Homo sapiens: one gene and its partner. The protein of the gene in region 1 interacts with the protein of each later gene in a pairwise test. Each region holds a gene or a part of one and is shown in the gene's direction. Other genes may lie near its edges.

The links.
Region 2: the proteins of SHKBP1 (region 1) and KCTD5 come close enough for resonance energy transfer, tested with the Homo sapiens proteins (one study listed by BioGRID).

The regions. Positions count from the first base shown.
Region 1 is NC_000019.10:40,579,259-40,587,492, forward strand, and holds part of SHKBP1 (SH3KBP1-binding protein 1), read left to right. Parts: intron 1-1,065; coding exon 1,066-1,227; intron 1,228-1,307; coding exon 1,308-1,398; intron 1,399-1,487; coding exon 1,488-1,678; intron 1,679-3,092; coding exon 3,093-3,208; intron 3,209-4,139; coding exon 4,140-4,227; intron 4,228-4,342; coding exon 4,343-4,459; intron 4,460-7,485; coding exon of another isoform or gene 7,486-7,515; coding exon 7,516-7,686; intron 7,687-8,234.
Region 2 is NC_000016.10:2,698,907-2,706,522, forward strand, and holds part of KCTD5 (BTB/POZ domain-containing protein KCTD5), read left to right. Parts: intron 1-914; coding exon 915-1,010; intron 1,011-3,446; coding exon 3,447-3,572; intron 3,573-7,616. UniProt on the Homo sapiens protein: Its interaction with CUL3 suggests that it may act as a substrate adapter in some E3 ligase complex. Does not affect the function of Kv channel Kv2.1/KCNB1, Kv1.2/KCNA2, Kv4.2/KCND2 and Kv3.4/KCNC4.

The DNA.
Region 1 (8,234 bases):
AGCACTCGCCACCATGCCCGGCTAATTAAAAAAATAATAATCATTTTAAATGCAAGCTTTATATTATAAATACAAAGTAAACATGAAAATAAAACCCAAACATAGCAGTGTTATTAAACTCTGGCCTGTAGCAGTGGCTCACACCTGTAATCCTAGCAGTTTGGAGGCCGAGACAGGTGGATTACTTGAGACCTGGAGTTTGAGACCAGCCCAGGTGACACAGCAAGACCTCATCTCTACTAAAAATAAAAAAAAATTAGCCAGGTGTGGTGGTATGCACCTGTGGTCCCAGCTACTTAGGATGCTGGAGTGCGAGGATCGCTTGAGCCCAGGAGGTCAAGGCTGCAGTGAACTATGATCACTCATTACACCCCAGCCTGGGTGACAGAGCGAGATGCTGTCTCAAAACAAAACAAAACGAAAAACAACTCTGGCTAGATGCTATTGCTTGCCAAGGGTGCAGTCTTCCATTTATTAAAAGTGAAAATTAGGGCCAGGCACATTGGCTCATGCCTGTAATCCCAGCACTTTGGGAGGCTGAGGTGGGTGGATCACCTGAGGTCAGGAGTTCGAGACCAGCCTGGCCAACATGGTGAAACCTTATCTCTGCCAAAAATATAAAAGATTAGCCATGTGTCGTGGTGGGTGCTTGTAATCTCAGCTACTTGGGAGGCTGAGGCAGGAGAATCACTTGAACCCAGGAGGCAGAGGTTGCAGTGAGCCAAGATTGTGCCATTGCACTCCAGCCTGTGCAACGAGCGAAACTCCAACTCAAAAAAAAAAAAAAAAAAAAAAACGGAAAATTAGGTAATACTGCAGATTCATTAATATCACAGCAGCACTAAACTCAGTCTTCCTCTGTGCTGGGCTCAAGGGAACTGAAAGGGAAGTAACTTGCTATGTGGTTCAGTGTCATTTCATGCTGTGTCACTGCACCACTTAAAATCTTCACCCGGAGACTATGTCCCACACATGGGGAAATCAATCACCGTCATATTTTAAGTGCTTGCTGTGTGACAGCCACGATTACAATGACTGTTACTCTACCTCTTATTCTCACTGTAGTGTTCCCAGTGAAGCGGCGGAACCGGCACAGCCTAGTGGGGCCTCAGCAGCTAGGAGGACGGCCAGCCCCTGTCCGACGGAGCAACACGATGCCCCCCAACCTTGGCAATGCAGGGCTGCTGGGCCGAATGCTGGATGAGAAAACCCCTCCCTCACCCTCAGGTACGTTTCTATCTCGTGGAAGGTTGGGGCAGCTGTGGGGTCCCTGTGACCCTCTTCTGATCCCTACTCTTCCCCTCAAGGACAACCTGAGGAGCCGGGGATGGTGCGCCTGGTGTGTGGACACCATAATTGGATCGCTGTGGCCTATACCCAGTTTCTAGTCTGCTACAGGTGCTTGGGGAGGGAGTGGCAGGAGGTCCCAGCCCTGTTGATGGGAAGGGCATGCGGTGAGGGTTGGTGATGTCCCCTCGATCCTACAGGTTGAAGGAAGCCTCTGGCTGGCAGCTGGTGTTTTCCAGCCCCCGCCTGGACTGGCCCATCGAACGACTGGCGCTCACAGCCCGGGTGCATGGTGGGGCTTTGGGTGAACATGACAAGATGGTGGCAGCAGCCACCGGCAGCGAGATCCTGCTATGGGCTCTGCAGGCGGAAGGCGGTGGCTCCGAGATAGGTATGACCCCAAGCCTTTTCCAGAACCCTCTGTCCTTTAAATTCTACTGCCTGTTAAAATGACCCACCCCATAAAATCCTCAAACCCATAAGAATTCTCTGCTCTATTAGATCTGTTTGTGTCATTAGAATGCTCCAGCCCTTCAGAATTCTGTATCCTGTTAGAATTCCCTGGCTTCCTAGAAAAATCCACCCACATACAATTCTCCCTCCATCAGAATTCCCTGCCCTGTTAGATCTCTTGGTTTTGTTAGAATGCGCTATTCTGTGTGGCCATGAGAAATGTCTGACTTGGCCCGGTGCGGTGGCTCATGCTTGTAATCCCAGCACTTTGGGAGGCTGAGGCGGGCAGATCACTTGAGGTCAGGAGTTCGAGACCCCCTTGGCCAACAGGGTGAAACCCAGTCTTTATTTCAAAAATACAAAAAAATTAGCTGGGTGTGGTGGCACGTGCCTGTAATCCCAGCTACTCAGGAGGTTAAGGCAGGAGAATCACTGGAACCTGGGAGGCAGATGTTGCAGTGAGCTGAGATCGCACCACTGCATTCCAGCCTGAGCGACAGAGTGGACAGAGTGAGACACCATCTCAAAAAAAAAAAAAAAACAAAAAAAGAAATCTCTGACTTATGGCTGGGCACAGTAACTCACATCTGTAGTTCCAGCACTTTGGGAGGCCATGGCAGGAGGATTGCTTGAGGCCAGGAGTTCGAGGCTGCCGTGAGCTATGTAAGCCATGATTGCACCACTGCACTCCAGCCTGGACAACAGAGCAAGACCCTGTCTCAAAGCCACAGCAACAAATCTCGGACTTATTAATCTGTCCCCAAATAAATCTCAGCCCTCGTAAGAATCCCCTGCCACCAGTGGAGGTTTTTTTGCCTTATTGCAAATCTCAGTGCTGTTAGAATTCCAGACCGTTTTAGAATCCCATACCCCATCAGAAATCTTCTGGCCCATTTTATCTTCTCTAATTCCTGCTGGAATCTTCACTTTTTTTTTTTTTGAAATGGAGTCATTCTCTGTTGCCCAGATTGGAGTACAGTGGTATGATCTCGGCTCACTGCAACCTCTGCCTCCTGGGGTCACGCAATTCTCCTTCCTCAACCTCCCAAGTAGCTGGGGCTACAGTTGTGTGCTACCACACTCAGCTAATTTTTATATTTTTTAGTAGAGATGGAGTTTCATCATGTTGGCCAGGCTGGTCTCAAACTCCTGGCCTCAAATGATCCGCCCACCTGAGCCTCTCAAAGTGTTGGGATTACAGGTGTGAGCCACTGTGCCCAGCCCCTGATGGAATCTTCTATCCTTCAAGGATTCTGTGGTCCCACTGAACCCTCTGGTCCTTGGAGTTCTTCCTCCCACCTCTCCTCCTCCATGAGGCAGGGTTCCAGCTGAGCCCTTTTTGCCCACTGCAGGGGTCTTTCATCTGGGGGTGCCTGTGGAGGCCTTGTTCTTCGTCGGGAACCAGCTCATTGCTACAAGCCACACAGGGCGCATCGGGGTGTGGAATGCCGTCACCAAGCACTGGCAGGTCAGAGTTCTGGCCAGCCTGGCTGCCCCCTTCCCAGTTTTCCAGACTGTACAGACCCAGGAAGGGGTTCACGTCTGCCCCCACCCCCACCCCCTAAGCCTGGAGGAAGCCAGAGAACCAGCAGCTGGCCAGAGCCTGGGGATGTCTGTGATAAAGGCCTAAGGAGCACCAGGGAAGCCTTCCTGGAGGAGGTGCTGCAGAGCCCACATGAAGCATGAATGGGTTTGAAAAGGAGTAGGGAGGATTGTCTTGGGACTGGGTGAGAGAGCAGGTTAGGGGGGATGCTGTAGAAGACAAGAACTGGCTTGGCTCGGTGGCTCACACTTGTAATCCCAGCACTTTGGGAGGCTGAGGTGGGAGGATGGCTTTGGGAGAAAGACAGACAGAGGCAGAGAAAGAGACAGAGAGGCAGAAAACCAGGCAAATAGAAATAGAAAATCAGAAAGAGGTGACAGAGAAGGGTAGACAGAGTCAAACCAGACTGAACCACTGTGGCAGATGGGGGAACTCAGAGAGATAAATGGAGATGAATTAGAGTCATGTCAGAAGTACATAGTGGAGGCCGGGTGCAGTGACTCCCGCCCGTAATCCCAGCACTTTGGGAGGCCGAGGCAAGAGGATGGCTTGAGCCCAGGAGTTTGACGCCAGCCTGGGAAACATAATAAGACTCTGTCTCTACAAAAAATTTAAAAAATTAAAACTTTAAAAAGTACAGAGTCCAGGAGAGGCCAAGAGTCAGACAGACAGATGCATCAAAGGGAGGAAGGGAGGGAACAAGACAGGGACAAAGGCAGGCCTGGGGTGGACGGGGCTGGGGAGCAGTGGGTGGGTTCTGGAGGTGGAGGAGAGGGCCCATCCTCTGTGAGGGGTCACCACGGAAGGAAAGGAATGGAAGGGCTCCCGGCTGCAGCCTGTCCTGCCCCACCCCCAGGTCCAGGAGGTGCAGCCCATCACCAGTTATGACGCGGCAGGCTCCTTCCTCCTCCTGGGCTGCAACAACGGCTCCATTTACTACGTGGGTGAGCAGCAGCCTGTGTCCCGGGTGCCCGAGACCCTCCCCTGGGAGAGGGGAAGGGAGGGAGAGAGGCTGGGGCACTTGGAACAAACCCGCTCCACCCTCCCTGCCCACCCCAGATGTGCAGAAGTTCCCCTTGCGCATGAAAGACAACGACCTCCTTGTCAGCGAGCTCTATCGGGACCCAGCGGAGGATGGGGTCACCGCCCTCAGTGTCTACCTCACCCCCAAGACCAGTAAGCTATGACCCGGCTTCCCCTGCTGCTGTCACCTGCCAGCCCCAGCCCCAGCCTGCAGCTGTCCCCCAACTTGTGTAGCATGACCCAGAGGGGTTTATCGAGGGGCGGCAGATTCAACTCTCTCTCATTTTTTTTTCTGAGACAGACTCTCATTCTGTTGCCCAGGCTGGAGTGCAGTGGTGCAATCTTGGCTCACTGCAACCTCCACCTCCTGAGTTCAAGCGATTCTCCTGCCTCAGCCTCCCAAGTAGCTAGGATTACAGGCGCCCACTGCCACGCCTGGCTAATTTTTGTAGTTTTAGTAGAGATGGGGTTTCACCATGTTGGCCAGGCTGGTCTTGAACTCCTGACCTCAGATGATCCTCCCGCCTCAGCCCCCCAAAGTACTGGGATTACAGACGTGAGCCACCGCGCCCAGCCAGATTCAACTCTCATCCAGTCATTCAACAAATATTTACTGAGTATCCCTGTATATAAGCACGTTCTAGGTGCTAGATGGTGGCCACCCTCTCCACTAGGGGCAGAATGGACCATTAGGAGTTAATCTTTGTGTTTCTTTCCCACCTTTGTGATTAAGGCATGATGTTCACATGTTCATAAAACAACACAGATGCAGGTTTTACAGCAGATGAACCTGAGTTCTCTTACTTGAGACAGTTTTTTGTTTTGTTTTCTTGACATCAAATGCAGAATGGGTTAATTTTTGAGACGTAATTCTCATACCATAAAATTTCCCATTTGAACGTGCACAATTCAGCGGATTTTAGTATATTCACAAGGTTGTACAACTATCACCATGAACAAATTCCAGAGTATGTTCATCACCCCCGTAAGAAACCCCCTGATCTTTAGCAGTAACTCCACATTTCTCACTTCTGATACCCTCTAGAAATCACTAATATGCTTTCTCTTTTTGTTTGAGACAAGGTCTCGCTCTGCTGCCCAGGCTGGAGTGCAGTGGCATGATCTCAGCTCACTGCAATCTCTGCCTCTTGGGTTCAAGCGATTCTCATGCCTCAGCTTCCTGAGTAGGGGAGGATTACAGGTGTGCATCACCATGCCTGGCTAATTTTTCTACTTTAAGTAGAGACTGGGTTACGCCACGTTGGCCAGGCTCAATATGCTTCCTATACCTATGGATTTGCCTGTTCTGGACAATTCCTGTAAATGGGATCATACATTATATGGTCTTTTGTGTCTGCATTTTTCACTTAGCATATTTTTTTAAATGGTTAGTGTTTTCTGGGTCTTAAGATATCCTTACCTATTCTAGGTTACAAAGATCTTCTCCTGAATTTCTTCTAGAAGATTTACAGTTTAGTTTTTACATGGAAGTCTGTTCTATCAGAAATTAAATTTTATGTATGGTGTGAAGCAGGGATTATTCTTTTTTAAAAAAAAATAGAGACAGGGTCTTGCTCTGTTGCCCAGGCTAGAGTGCAGTGGCATGATGTGAGTTCTCTGCCACCTCCGCCACTCGGGCTCAAGCGATTCTTCTACCTCAACCTCCTGAACAGCAGAACCACAGGCATGCATCACCACACCTGTCTAATTTTTGTATTTTTTTGTAGAGACAGGGTTTTGCCATGTTGCCCAGGCTACTCTTGAACTCCTGGGCTCAAGTGATCCTCACACTTTGGCCTCCAAAGTGCTGGAAATACAGACTTGAGTCACTGTGCTTGGCCATAGCTGCTGCTGCTGCTTTTCTTTTTTTTTTAAAGCAGAAATAAGTTAATAATACACCTAACTTCATGACACATTATCACCTTTCTTCTTTGTAAGGCCCTTTTCTTATTTCTTTTTTTTCTTTCTTTCTTTTTTTTTTTTTTTGTCTTTTCCTGAGACAGAGTATCGCTCTGTCATTCAACCCAGGCTGGAGTGCAATGGCGCAATCTCAGCTCACTACAACCTCTGCCTCCTGGGTTCAAGCAATTCTCCAGACTCAGCCTCCCAAGTAGCTGGGATTACGGGTGCCTGCCACCATGCCCAGCTAATTTTTGTGTTTTTAGTAGAGGCAGGGTTTTGCCACGTTGGCTAAGCAAGTTTTGAACTCCTGGGATTCTCCTCTCGTCGTCTCCCAAAGTGCTGGAATTACAGGCATGGGCTGCTGCACCCGGCCTCTTTCTTATTTCACTTACTTACTCATTTCCTCCTCATCTCCCTTCCCGCCACATGCCACTATTATGTCATTTTTCTTTGTTTTTTGAGACAGTCTCGCTTCGTCACCTAGGCTGGAGTGCAGTGGCGCAATCATAGCTCACTGCAGCCTCACCCCCTGGGCTCAAGTGATCCTCCTACTTCAGCCTCTTGAGTAGCTGGGATCATAGGTGAATGCCATCACACCCAACTAGTTTTTTAAAAATCTTTTGTAGAGATGAGGGTCTCACTATGTTGCCCAGGCTGGCCTCAAACGCCTGGCCTCAAGCAATCTTCCTGCCTCGGCCTCTGTTCTCTGTTTTACTTTCTCTTTCCTCTCTTATTTGCTGTTTCACTGTTACAATTTCTGTCTCTGGGCCTCTCCTCCTTTGACCTGTGCCTTTGTCTCCCTGTTCCTCCATTTCCCACATCTCATCACCATCTTTTTGTGTCCTTCCCTCTCTCCTTGCTTTCTGACTGTGTCTCTGTTCTGTGTCTCTTTCTTTCTTTCTTTCTTTTTTTTTTTTTGAGACAGAGTCACATTCTGTCATGCAGGCTGGAGTGCAGTGGCGTGGTCTTGGCTCATTGCAACCTCTGCCTCCTGGGTTCAAGCAATTCTCATGCCTCAGCCTTCTGAGTAGCTGGGATTACAGGTGCGTACTACCACCACCAGCTAATTTTTGTATTTTTACTAGAGACAGGGTTTCAGCACGTTGGCCAGGCTGGTCTTGAACGCCTGACCTCAAGCGATCCACCCGCCTCAGCTTCCCAAAGTGATGGGATTACGGCGTGAGCCACCGTGCCCGGCCTCTCCTTGCTTTCTGACTGTGTCTCTGTTCTGTGCCTGTTTCTTTCTCCCTGCCCTGGTTTCTGTCTCTGTGGCCCAGGCCCTCTCCTCATCCTTGGCCCCTCACCAGGTGACAGTGGGAACTGGATCGAGATCGCCTATGGCACCAGCTCAGGGGGCGTGCGGGTCATCGTGCAGCACCCGGAGACTGTGGGCTCGGGGCCTCAGCTCTTCCAGACCTTCACTGTGCACCGCAGCCCTGTCACCAAGATCATGCTGTCGGAGAAGCACCTCATCTCAGGTGAGCCTCTGTGGGGTGCTCCAGTGCTGGGAGAGACAGCTCAGATGGGAGTGTGGAGACAGGAGGATGAGAATTTCCACTGGGGAGGGACATTGTGTAGGAAGAGAGCTCTGGCGGAGAGGATTGACCTGGGATGGGACTGTAATTGCAGAAGTGAGAGAATACCATAGGGGATCAGTCTGGGGAAGAGTGAATCTGTGTGTGTTTGGGAATCCATCAATTCAGCAACGATTTACGGGGCACCCACCATGTGCCAGGCATAGGGGATACAGTGATGAACAAGACAGGCCAAGTCCCTGCCCTCGTGGAGCTGACATTCTAGCAGCGATGGCAGACAATAAATCTATAAAAATGGACATCAATGGCCAGCTGCGGTGGCTCACACCTATAATCCCAGAACTTTGGGAGGCCAAGGCGGGTAGATTACTTGAGGTCAGGAGTTCGAGACCAGCCTGGCCAACATGGTGAAACCCCACCTCTACCAAAAATATAAAAAATTAGCCAGGTGTGGTGGCACGTGCCTGTAATCCCCGCTACTCGGGAGGCCG
Region 2 (7,616 bases), on another chromosome or scaffold:
ACTCCCTGCCTCAGTCTACCTACCTGTATGACGCAGGTGGGCAGGAAATGGTGCAGGTGGGAGAGTCTGCGGTCCAGCCTTGCTGTGACACAGTAGCATCTCACTGTCTTGCAGAATAAAGCAACTCGGGCATGTGACCTCGAGGCCACTGTGTGCCTTTGTCACTCAGGCATCCCTGGCATGAGTCACCACCTTAAGGTCAGGGACCCAGGACCTCTGAACCCCTTCTCACTGCTGCGTTTCCGTCCAGCCCCGTCTGCAGCCTGAGTCCTCCGTAGTGACTGTCCAGGATGTGGGGCCACCCCGCCCACTGGGGAGCAGCTCCATGCAGGCGGGCGGCCCTGGTGGCTCACCATCACTCCCAGGACCACAGCTGCCTGGAGGGGCACAGCAAGCGTGCCAGGCAGGTGGGGGATTAGGAGGTGGATGGAGTTTTAGGAAGCAGCTCAGCCTTCGGGAGGCCCAAGTCCAGGCTGCCGCGCAAGTTCAAGAGCCTTTTTCTGGTAGCTGGGAGCGAGCTTCGTCTGGCACTGGCTCTCAGGGCCCTGCTTGCCAGAGCCTTTCCCGACCGATGAATTCAGGGCTGCACGGTTGCTGCGTGCGGAGCAGACGTGGACGCTCTCGTGTCGTCATGTCGAGCCACAGGTGCTCTTGGGATTTCAGGAACATGACTCATTTTATTTTGGAACTTAGAAATAGAAATATTTTTGGAGGCGAACGAGGAAGCAGAAAACAGCAGCTGTTCGGGCCGCGTGTTTTGCTTTTGTGGATGTGCTCAGGATTGCTTTGGGCCTCGTGCCCTGTGCTGAGAACTGCAGAGTGGACCTCAGCCTCCCTGGGTCACCTGGGCTGGGGCCACAGGCAGCAGTGGGACATGGGTGGCCCGCCCTTACCTGTGCCCATTGTCCTTGCAGGTGCCTGTGAAGCATGTGTACCGTGTGCTGCAGTGCCAGGAGGAGGAGCTCACGCAGATGGTGTCCACCATGTCCGACGGCTGGAAGTTCGAGCAGGTGAGGGGCCCTGGCCAGCCTGGTGGCAGCCATGCTGCAGCTGAACTTGTGCTCACAATGGCTCAGGGCTCAGTGCTCCTGGAAATGCAGACTTTGCTGCTGGCGTCTTCCTGCAGTTCTGGGGGTGCTCACGGCAGCGACCTGTGCCCTGTTTCCACTGGAGGAGCCTTGGGAGTTCGGGTGGGGTGGGCAGAGGTGTCTCAGGCTCTGCCCCGCACCTTCCCCTCCTCCCTGGCCTGCCTCTTCTTCCCAGCGCTGCGCTTTCTTCGCATCATCTGGCACCTCTGTGTGAGGGAGGGGACTGGCGTCCCCAGAGCCTCCTGGCCAGCCCACTATCCAGCGCAATCCCCGTCCCCCACAGCTCACTCCATCGGAGCATATGGAGGCCCTGACGCCTTTCCCAGGCTGCCTCCCCTTCCCGCCCATGCTGGAAGGTGCTGCCAGGCCCTCGTTGCCTTCTCTCTGGTTTTGGCAAGCTGCGGCGGGTGGGGTCTGATGGGTCTGTGCAGGGCATGCCTTCTTCAGCAGCTTCCACGGAAGCCACCTGAGTGCTGCATGGGCCACTGTGCCATGGCATTGTGGCTTGTCATCGGGGACCTCAGGACACGTGAGGCATGGCCTCTGACCGGGGGGCCCTTGCCCACGACCTGGCTGCCACTGTTCCTGGTGCTAGACAGACACTGAGGGTGGGGACAGTGACCTCACCCAGCCCTCCCTGTCCTGAGTTTCCTCTGTCACTTGCTTCTGTCTGGGGCAGGTTCTGTCCATGGCCCAGTGCGCCTGCCAGGTTGTGGGAGTGACAGGCTCAGCCAGTGTCCCTCTGAATGAAAGCTACCTTTTCCTTGGAGTCTTTCAAAATAATAGATCACATTGTAGGGTACTTGGAGCCCCCCCCCCCTTAAAATGTCACTAAAAACATTTGTGTCCCACCGTCCACCCTGGACCCCTAGGCCGGGGGCCGGGGTGACTCTGGGTCTCTGTGCTGACAGGGCTGCTGACCAGCTGCTTGGTCCCTGCCCTGCACCTCATCAGAATCGTGCCAGAGCCTCCCACGGGAACAGAAATCTTTGCTGCTGGGCGAGCCCCACCTCCCAGTTGTCCCTTGGTGGGGCTGGGGCCCTGGGAAGCCGTGTCAGCAGCTCGGGGTCCGCGAACAGGGCTGTCCCCATGTGGCACCTGTGCTCTTCTGCCACCGTCTTGTGACTTCTGGCTGGGAGGGAACAATGTCTCCTGCCCGTGGTGGGCACCTGCCTCCCGGGGCAGCTTCAGGTCTTCGACCTTAGCACTTCTGGGTGGATTCCAAACCCATTGCAAAGAACGGGTGTCCTCCCCCTTCCTTGATTACGACCTGCTTGGCACGCTTCATCCCTTGGGGACCCCTTCTCCCAGTTCATGTAGGGAAGCCGCTGGGCTGACCAGCTGTCCCGGCTGTGGGGTGGGACCCTGCGGGGTGCTGGGAGGTGGCCAGACCGGACCCAGGGTCCCCAGTGGTCAGCAGGGGATTGCAAGCAGGGCTTGGAAGTGGCTGTGAGGACACAGGGGCTCCGGGGGGCATGGCCGTGAGTGCTCCCAGGGGTACCCTTAGCTGCTTGGGCCCATGCCGGCACCCCTGTGGCCGCCTCACTGGGCTGGGTCCACTGCTGCCCACTGGGTCAGCCGCCAGCTATACAGGAGCAGCAGGTAGCTGCGGGCTGCTCTCCCGGCCGTTGGTCCAACTGCGCAGGTCTTAGAGAGGCCAAAGTGTGAGCCTCGTCCAGCTGCTTTTTGGCTTGGTCATCTGCTGCTGTCATGCTTATTGTGATTTGCGTATTGCCTTTTAATTTTCCCTTTAAAAGCACAGAAGTGCCTGGTGGCCCAGGGTAGCCAGCCATGGGCCAGATGCCTGGCCAGAGAGACAGGTTGGCCCTGGACCTGCATTGGCCTGGCCTGCCTGGTGACCCGGAGGGAGGCAGGTTGGAGTGGCCTAAGGGTGTGGCCAGCAGGCTGCAGCAGACCCGCCCTGGCCGAACTCCTGGACAGCACAGCTCCTCCAGCGGCTTTCGGTCCAGTCAGCTGGTCCCAGGCTCTTCCCTCCAGGTTTTCAGAGCCGCCCTCCACTCTCCTCCCGCTGCCCCCCTCCCTCCGCCCCAGCTCAGGGACCCGTCTGTGCTCCGTCCCCCTGGGGCAGCAGCCCCTTTTGGCCCAGCTGGAAGCGCCAAGGAAAGCTCAGGGTCCTCACAGAGGAAGAGCTCGCCCCATGCCATGCCACGGCGTGGGGTGCCGCCCCGTGTGCTCGTGCAGGTGTTCCGGGGATTTGTTTTCCATCCATTTCCTGAAGCGTCGGCAGTCTTTGCTGTGGCTTTCGCGGTGGCAGGCGCGTCCTGAGGCTGGTCATGTCAGCCTGGCTGGGTCTCTCAGGCTTCACTGGGCTGCGTCTCAGGCTATGTCTCCTTGCAGTTGGTCAGCATCGGCTCCTCTTACAACTATGGGAACGAAGACCAAGCCGAGTTCCTCTGTGTGGTGTCCAAGGAGCTGCACAACACCCCGTACGGTACGGCCAGCGAGCCCAGCGAGAAGGCCAAGGTGAGTGCTGGGCCGGCCCTGGCCTGGGGCAGTCTTGGGTGGGGAAGGCTCTTGCCCTCTCAGACCTTCCTCCTTTTCTGCCATTCTCATCAAGCTCCCGGTGTCCGCCCCTGGTGGCCTTGCTGACTTCTTGGACACACGGTCTCCCGTGGGACAGGTTCTCTCGACACAGGCTCCCAGTAAGCCCCTGCGGCCTCCCAGCCTGCATGCAGAGCTGCTCCTGGAAGGGGCCCCAGGCCTGCTGCAGGGGCCATGCTCTTAGGAATGCCACTGAGGGCTGTGTCTCAGGGGACCCAGGGTCCTCTGTTCCCCGGGCCCAGCCTCTGCTGTGTGAGTGAGGACTTGGGATGCTGAGGCCTGGCTGTCATAGGGGTCTGGGCCATCCCTGAGTGCAGGGACATGGGGGTCCAGTTGTCGTGGTGGGGGTCTGGGCCATCCCTGAGTGCAGGGGTGGGTACCCTGGCTCAGCCACTACGTGGGCCTCATCTTTGTCGAGAGGAGGGTGTCCTGCAGGCCCTGGGATTCTCAGGCTGCACAGAGTAGGCCCTTTGCGGCACCCAGCCTGGCAGCACCGGCGCAGACTCTGCGGGGGCTCAGGCCCTTCTGTTTTCTGCGGGGCAGGCAGCTGGGGTGAAATGCAGGGACCCCTGCCTCGTTTGCTTTCAGGTTGGCCCTGTGGCCCTGCCCACAGGTGACCCATTCTGGTGGCATTTCCTCTAAGCACGTTCTTAAGGTTGAGGCTCCAAGATGGACAAATGCGTCCATCCAAGCAGAATCTGACCTTGGCCTGGGCCAGCTGCACCTGGCAGGACTCCCGGACCTCAGAGCCAGGTGGTGGCTGGAGAGCTCTTGGCTGGGGTCTGCGTGGGTCTGGGAGAGCCTGGGTGGTGGGGCGGGCTCTGTGGGGAGCCAGCCTGGGGCGAAGGCTCGGGGCATTGGCAAAGGGTGTTGAGTGGGTGCCATGAGAGGCCAGAACCGGAAGGCTTTTAACTGGTGGCATTAAACCAGGGACACCTGGGCAACCGCAGACTCTTGGCTGGGGGCCTCTGGCCGGCCACCAGCAGCCCAGGACTGTCCCCGTGAGCCTCTCCGAGTAGGCCTTTGGAGGTATGCCCTTGGGAACAGAGGGGTGGGGCCGCCAAGCATGTCTCTCGGAGGCCTGCGGCCAGCTCACGGCAGCCTTTCCACCTCAGGCGACTGTCCTGGCCCAGAGCCTCCCTCGCTGGCCACCCGTTGTGCTCTTGCTGTGGGCAGAGGCCAGTCCTGCTCCACTGCCGTTCCTCGAGGCCGAGGCAGTGTAGGCTGGGGCAGGCCCTGGTGTGGGACAGCCGGGGTGGAAGCTGGGGTTCCACCGCCAGGCTCGGAGATGCTCTTCCATTTGAGTCTCGGATCTAGGAGGCGACCCCTGGCTCCCTGAGAGCCCCAGCTCAGTCACAAGGAGGCACTTCTCTTCCTCTTGGAGCAATCGTAGGGCTCTTTTCTAAATGGTTTTATTTTTAGAAGTTTTTTATTTCTGAGCTGAGTTTTTATAACCAAGCTCCCCTGGGCTCCTATCCCTCAGGTGGCTTGGCAGCTGCAGAAAGGACACGCTCTGTACTGTGAGGAAGCTCCAGGCATGACCCCAAATCCCTTTGTGGTTGAGAATGTGGCCCTATTTCATTTTCCAAAAATACCTGCTCTGAAGTGGGGCAGCTATGGCGGCTTCTTGATGGGGGTGGTGTCAGCAGTGCCCCAGGAGGCAGAGCTCAGGCCAGAGCCTCAGGAGGCCGTGGGGGATTGCGGGGGCCAGAGCTGGAGGACCGTGATGGGGGCACCCCTGGCTGGGCTGCGCAGGGCCGCATGGGCTGTGGGCCCTCGTCGCTGGTGTCCCTGCAGCATGTGTGGCCTGGCCCTGCTGGGCAGCTGTCCCCCACTTCAGTCAGCGGCGGCGGGAGAGCCTGGGTGGTGGGGCGGGAGGGGTTGCACCTGTAGCAAGTGAAGGCGGTCCACACATGAGCACACCTGCTTCCCACGCCAGTCCCTCAAGAACTTGCTAGAAGGACTCGCAGAGCTCACTGAGAGCGCTTAGACTCAAGGCCGCCATTTATTCCCAAGGAACAGAGAGAGACAGGCTCAGATCAGCAAGGGCGGGCACCTGGGCAGAGGCCGGGGTCTCCCAGTGCCTGGGCGGCTGAGGAGGGGGTTCCTTGGTGGTGTTGGGGCTCCATTGCGTAGCCATGCTCGATGGGTGCATCCACCGCCTGCCCCCGTGGCTGATCCCTCCTGTGACCCAGGGCCCCACCCTCCCTCCTGCAGCAGTGGGGCCAATGCAGTGGGGTCCACAGAGCCCACGCAGCAGAGGCCCTCCTATCAGGCCGAGATCTGTGGGCTAGCGCCGCCTGCCAGGAGTGGGGCCAGAGGCCAGGCGCCTCTGGACAGGGTTCAGCCCCTCAGCACATGGTGGGACAGGACCAGCCCCGGATCGCAAGATGCAGCCGCCTCACACGTGGAGGTTTCCACCTCTGAGATGTGGCAGAGCCCCTGAGCCTGTGTGTCCCCTCGTGGCGTGGCCTCACTGGAAGGTCACCGGGCGTGGGGGTTTGGGCCCGGGGCACCCGCCCACCCGCACTGTCCTGACAGCCTGTCTTCTCCCCCACTGCGCGCTGCACGCCGCCAGAGTGACGACGAGGACCAGGGGCACCCAGGGAGTGGCTCAGATTAAGTGTGAATGTCATGGTGAGCTCCGTGGCCTCCTTGACCCCATGGCCCCAGCTGACCCTTGCCACAGACCCTCCCTGTGTGTCTGTCCCTGCCTGTAGTTGACGAGAGCCGTCCGCACTCCATGCCAGCTGTAGATCCTCAGTAGCACTGTCTTGGTGGTGGGGCTGTTGCTGTGAGGCAGATGCCCAGGGGCAGTGTTGGGGCGTTTGTTGGGATGACTGGAGGGTGCCCGTGCCAGGCCAGGCTGTGGACATCAGTGGTCGTGAACCCAAGAGCCCCTCCTGGGGGCTGGGCAGGGAGTGCCACTCGTGCCGCCAGCCCTAGTGGGTGACCTTCCTGTCTGGCTTAGGCCACAGGCTCAGGGCCAAGGGGTCAGGACCAGTGCGGCAGACAGCAGACCCCTATCTCAGCTGCCAAATCCTGCGGCATCCCTGATGCGCTTAAGCCTCCCAGGCCAGCCGTGTCCTGCAAGCCCCTCAGCCACCCGGGCCTGCCTGCCTGTGGGGGTGTCTGGCCATGGGGTACAGCCTCAAGGGCCCCCTGGTTGGTGTCTGCAGTTGGACCTTCCTGTGGAAGATGGCCTAGGGAGACAGTGTGTCCAGAAAAGATGGGTCTCACCCCAGGCTCTGTCTAGAGTAGCCCGTGCTGCTCCCGGCCTTGGGAGGGCGAAGGACAGCACTTTGGCTGCAGGTCTCCAGGGTGTCTCCTGCCCTCATCAGGAGGGAGCTGTTGGGGCTCCCGGATGCTCAGATGCCACACTGCTCCTGGCCTGTCCGCTGCGCTACTTAGTTTTACACAGGGCTGGTGGGGGCTTGGGGGCTGCACTGTCTCCCCAAGTCAACTCCAGACATCCCAGTAAACTTGGGAATCACCCTGGCCCAGGGAGGGACGTGCTGCCCCTCGCACAGGGGGATGGGCTCCTCCGAGGCACTGGAGAGTGAGTGGGAGCCTCGAGCTAGAAGTGGTCCAGGGCACTGAGCCTGGGGGGCACCCGCCTGGGAACGGCAGAGCTGTTGGGGGGTGGAGTATTGGAGTCAGGCTGAGCAGCTCAGGGGACGTGGCCTCCAGGAGCCTTCGGAACAAGCCTGGGGTGGCATGCACCTCTCACCACTGCCCTCTCTCCGGTCAGTGCGGCATGGCAGTGACCTCTGGGAGGCTGTGCCCGGCGAGGGCGTGGGCGTTGCTGCCCTACCTGGTGTTGGGCAGCCCTCACGTGACACATGGAGACAGCTGTTGTGGGCCACGCACAGTGAGGCTGGCTGGCTCCGAAGCTCTCTGCTCGGGAGCGTGGGGTGATTTCCCCTCCACCTGGTCTCTGGAGCTGCCATGGCTCATTTTGGGAGT